Regions from separate parts of the Homo sapiens genome. Here region 2 is linked to region 1. The links come from fine-mapping of genetic effects on gene expression. A gene starts in region 1. The other region holds a variant in brackets. All regions are shown on one strand. Distances are between the middles of the regions.

What was found. PIP is the estimated chance that this variant, and not a neighbour inherited with it, causes the effect.
Region 2: its variant is fine-mapped to the expression of IFT57 in sun-exposed skin (GTEx, PIP 0.99).

Annotation. Positions count from the first base shown.
Region 1 is chr3:108,221,405-108,223,904 of GRCh38, reverse strand. IFT57 (intraflagellar transport 57) reads left to right here and starts at 1,481. Exons shown (of 11, transcript NM_018010.4): 1 at 1,481-1,794. The coding sequence starts at 1,583. LOC124909405 (a long non-coding RNA gene) reads right to left here and starts at 1,300. Exons shown (of 2, transcript XR_007095999.1): 1 at 1,219-1,300; 2 at 1-959. RefSeq lists a silencer at 1,274-1,567 and an enhancer at 1,503-1,762.
Region 2 is chr3:108,405,181-108,408,207 of GRCh38, reverse strand. It overlaps MYH15 (myosin heavy chain 15), which reads left to right. Exons shown (of 41, transcript NM_014981.3): 33 at 2,755-2,870. Among named protein-coding and RNA genes, the nearest start is that of MYH15, 100 kb to the left of the region's middle. RefSeq lists enhancers at 1,162-1,221, 1,282-1,381. The variant G/A (reference allele first, on the strand shown) is at 1,441.

The DNA of each region.
Region 1 (2,500 bases):
TCGGGGAGAATCACTGTTTCAAAAAGGCAAAGACCAGGAAAGATCAATTTGGTAGTGGGGTAACATCAAATCCAATTTTCTCACTCAACTTTATTAAAAGCAGCTGGCTCATGACTTGTGGTAGGCAAGCAATGTTATTTATTTAAAAAGCAATTCTCAGTGGGCTGCCCTTCAGGTTATTCTCTACATAAGTCTGTAATTTTATGTACTTCCTTTCTTTAATGAAAAAATGGTATTTGCCCTTCTGACTTTTCACTTTGATAACCTTATTAGTATCAGAAACAAGTTAGCTGTAGACGGATTACAATGAAAAGTGTTCTCATTTTTTCTAATAAAAACAGGATATTGTAGATACATTTCAAATTTCAGTTGTCCAAAAATGTAGCCCTTCTATATTTTGTAGTGGCAGATACAAGAGATCAGAGAGCCCTTAAAAGTCACGTTATAAACATGAACATATGTTCAATCTCTTGTACTAAGTTTTCTTCCCAAAAACTGCCAGGCATCCACCACTTACCTCATTTTTTGCAACTGTTAAGAAAATTGCCTAATACAGAAGCCTTTTGAAAACTGTAAAGCTGGGCCATTTCTGTGGTCAGTTATGTACCTTTTCTTAAATTTTCTAGGTCAATAACTGCAGAATACAGTAGTAACACCCTATCTTTAGCCACCCTTAGAGCTTTAGGGCAGGGAAATTCCTTTTAAGACCATCTCTATTCTGTTGGATTTAACGAAGTACCCAAACACTTTATACTACATGTAATGGGTTTGAAACAGATTAAGCAGCAGGATGGAAGCTTAGTATTCTTGTTTTTGAAGTAAAACAAATCCTTCCAAATGCCTCCTTTTGTTCATTGTCTTCCTCATCCTTCCAACCACTTTCCTAGCACTGGAGTAACAGCCAGGCAACGTAATACAGTACTTCAAGCTTTACAATATACTGTTAAGTGCAGCATTGCCTAGTGAGAGAAAGATAAAATTAAAGAAAGAACGAGAGAAACCTCTCGTTGGAAAGTTCCTGCAGTAAAAGTGAAACCTATGGTATTGACTATCTTTACAACTATGAAAAACTTTTCAATTCTGAGAAAATAAAGGTATCAGTGAGCCAGTGCAGCCTTCAGTGCTACACGTCTTCACCTCCCTTTAATCTTTTTAACAGCTACTAGCTGACCCAGATGCCCGCTTAATTGCTTTTAGCAACCACCAGGTCCAACACACCTCAAGCCAGCTCAAGACTCACTAGGCAAGCGGAGCAGAAACGTAAGCCGGCTCCCTTCAGACTTTCAGCGAGGGAGAAGACGCAGCCGGCAGTGGGGCGCGAACGCCACGCCTCCATGAGGGGCGGGGCTGCTTCCCGACCACCATTTCCACAGAGGCAGGGCAAGAAGAGGGCCACAGGTGACGTCATTCAGGAAAGCCGCCCTGATTGGAGGGAAGGAGGCGGAGTCTAGTTTCCCTGGTGACGGATTGTCCGGTGGTCGCCTGGTAACCGGTCGTGGCTGTACTGGCGGCGGCAGGGCTGGCGGCTTAGGCCGCAGAGGTCTGTGGGCCTGAGCCCACGCTGGACTCTGTCCGTTCTGCGATGACTGCTGCTCTGGCCGTCGTCACGACGTCGGGTTTGGAAGATGGGGTGCCTAGGTCCCGTGGCGAAGGGACCGGGGAAGTGGTCTTGGAGCGGGGGCCCGGCGCGGCCTACCACATGTTCGTGGTGATGGAGGACTTGGTGGAGAAGCTGAAGCTGCTCCGCTACGAGGAGGAGTTCCTCCGGAAGAGCAACCTGAAGGCCCCGTCCAGGTGGGTGCCGGCGTCCCCGAGCGCCCGGGTGCCTGCTAGCCCCCAGGGAGATGCCCTCCTTGGTCCTGCTGGGAACCAGTTTCGTGAGAGCGGGTTAGCAATTCCTTGCCTCCGTCTTCCTAGCCAGGGAAGGGCACTTCACCCCAAACTCCCGGGAGGTCCGTGGAGCTCACGCAGCCCTGACTTGGTATTTTTGTAGAGAGAATAAATAAGTTTTGGAACGGCAGAAAGGATCGGAAGACAGCTTGCCTGTTTTTTTCCAACACACACGCATTACCAGAAAACACAAACTATATTTTCTGATTGTAAAGATGAAACAAATACTCATTGAAGAAAACTCAGAAAAACACAAGTAAATGTCTAGAAAAATTATAAGACCGTCCAAAATTCGCCTCCAGAGAGGAATGCCATTATCACTTAAGGCTTTTTTTCTAGTTTGGGGTTTTTTGTTGTTGTTTAAGACCCTGTTCATACAACTGGGGACCGTGGGTACTTAGGATCCTGTTAAGGAGCACTTTAAATGCGGTTAGTAAACTTGTTAACTACTTGCTATGGTTTAAAAGACTTCTGCCTTTGTAATAACCATACTCTCAGAAACTGAAAAGTGGAAAAGACGAATGACAACTATTGAATTGTCCCCCTATCATAGAACCTAAAGTTTTACCCTTGTTCCGGTGGGGGAAAAGTCCAACATATCCTGAAAGCA
Region 2 (3,027 bases), 180 kb before region 1:
GCACCAACAAAAGGACACGTATTCAAATGTTTATTTACTATATGCTAGGCACTCTGCCAAATGCATAATTTTAATATAATCACCGTAGGAAACTACTGTCCCCATTTTATAAAAGAGGAAATTGAGACTCAGAGAGCAGGATACACAACAGTGAATGCAAATCTCCTGATTGTAGTAAAAACAGGAACTATCTATCTTGTTCACCAGTTTATCCCCAGTGCCCAGACCCTCACTACTCAACATGTGGCCCATGGACATCGCTTGGGAGGCTGTTAGAAATTCAGAATCTCAGCCCTCTGCCCATCTCTGTTGAATCAGGATCTGCATTTTAACAAGATCCCTTGGTGGTTCATATGCACATTAATATTTGAGAAGCACTGGCCTAGAACATTGCCTGGCATGTAGTAGAGGCTCAGTAAATATTTGTCAAATGTTGAATGAATAAATATTCTCATAGCTGCCCCCTCTTTAAAGAGTCAGTCACAAAAGCTTTTCAATTTTTTTTCCCCAAAAACTTTCGGTAGTTTCAGAAATAAGATTCAAAGTGATGTTGTCAAACATTTGTTTCTGAAAGCTCATCTTTGTGCAGATTGACAGGAGGGTTTTCAGTGTTATGGATTCACAGTTCAGGAAAAGTCTCTGGCTGTATCTCTGGGTGTGCATTAGCAATTGAAAGGACCTCTAAGAAGACATTTCGCCAAAGAAGGTAAACTAACAAGGAAGTCATCTTATCATGATTCTTAGGTGGTTAAGAAGCCCTGTGCAGCCTCTTCTCAGAGCTGAACTTCATCTTCCTGACTCAGCCTTTGAACAAGTATTCAGACACATTAAAATACAGCCCTGATCCTCCCACCAGTAGAAAAAGAAAAAAGATTTTTGAAAGGTGTGGCAGTCAGTGTTAGGCAGGGGTCTCTTGGAAGGTATGGCGATGGAAAACAAGACCCCAAAGGACCACTCTGTGCCAAGCATTGTCTGTTAAATTTACCTCACCGTTGTGATTCCAGAAGAAACTTCCAAGCAAATGTGTCCATATTACCCTCTGTATAGAGTTGTCAGGCAGCAGCTCTCACCCTGTTATACATAAATGTTTCCTGAGGCTATCTAACTTTATACAGACTCCTTTTCGTTGGCAGTGTGGTGCCCTGTAGCACAGCTGGTCCTTACACAGTTGGTGAACTTTGTTTTGTTTACTCGTTCCCTTTGGTTCTCTGGCTATCCTGGCAAGGGACTTTTTGAAGCCACCACCTTAACTGAAAGAAGTAAATTTTATGATAGAAATTTCAAGTACTATGACAAGCCAATGAAAAATACAACTGGCACGGGCCATTTATGTCCTGTATAACACAGAGGCATCTTTGTGTATTCAGTCGATCATCACGTGGGTCAAGGGTGAGAATGACAGGAAGGCCATAATGCTCAAACCACTTAGTACCACTAGAT[G/A]GCAACACATTCTATTCGCATTTTCTCCACTTCTGTCCTCAGCCACATCCATAAATACTTCATCAACTTGGACATGTATTTGTAACATTGCGTTATTTATTTTCCTGGGTGAGCCTTTATGAGAAACTTTATCAGATTTTTTTAAAGCCATAAAACTCACATTATCCCAGGTCATGTTCCCTAAAGATTCACTTTCTCAGTGCATTTTAGAGGGTTAGAGGTGACAGTTTCCTCTTGAAGGAACTACTACACTATTCCCTCTGAGGAAATTGTTATCCAAGCATTTGTTTTTGAGTGTGCGTTAGCAATTTTATTTTCTTTTATATTGAAGGTAGTATCAAGATAACATCAAGGGAGGTCTTATTAAAATTCCCATCATCTTTTTATTTTTATTTTAAAATTGCAACTCAGTTTTACTTTTTTACATTTTGTCATATCTGCTAAGCACGCCTCAAAAGAGGCTATGAAAAAATTACTTCTGCCCTTAGGACTGCCTGTAGCTAACTGACCACAAAATTGCATCACCCCTTATGCCCTTATATCCTTGGTATTCTGTAAGTGTTTTTTGGATTTCTTCTTTTATATACATTTTTAGCTTCAGGACGGGTTTTAAAGATTTAGCCAAACCTATGCTTTTAGAATTGAATTGCCTTTATAACATCCCTGCAAATAATTGCCTTAACTATATTTGAATACACAAAGGGGCAAGGAATCTTCTGCCTGTCAAAGAAATTCATTTGCAGTAGTGGTACCAATTATGGTGTTAATGGCTCACACTGAGTGTTACATGTCAGGTACATTGTAAATTCCTTTATTTGTTCTTCATATGACAATATTTGGACACTACCCTGTTGTTTGTTCTCTGAATACATCCAACTTTTCCTCTATCCCCTCGTGATGTCCAGAATTTAATAGAAGATTCCAGGTAGGAGTTATCACCTTCCTTGTTCTAGCTCTGATACTTTTTAAAATTTATCCCAAAGTTGGAATATGTTAGAAAAAGTCAAGGGTAATACATTAAAAAGTTTAAATATAGTCACAGACAAGAGTGAAATTTTCTATTTTAAAATAGGCTTTAAAATTCTAGTTCTGGAGCTACAGCTGAAAGACCTAAGAATGTCAAATCTATAAGTGAAATGACAAATGAAAGCAGTTGCTTGTCTCACTGTGTTGCAATCTCTAGGGACCTGGCTTGAACCTATATCTCTCCCAGTAACTCTAAGAGAGCTACATTAGCGACATATGTTTTGGGTAAAAAATACAATTTTGTCTAAAAGTGGACTTCATTTAATGCTTTTTATTTATGTATTCCAGGGAGCCCTGGAACGTAATGAAAGCAAGATTCTTCATTTCCAGCTTGAACTCTTGGAAGCTAAAGCAGAACTTGAAAGAAAGCTTTCAGAGAAAGATGAAGAAATAGAAAATTTTAGGTATTTAAGATGATTTTGATGTGTAACAATTATGTATTTCTGAATCCTTGACTAAACAGAGCTCATTATGTCTGGCTGCTTTTATGGCCCCTGTTGGAGCATTACCAAAGAAACTTAGTGTAACTCTATATTATTTTCTTTTATATACAATATCTAT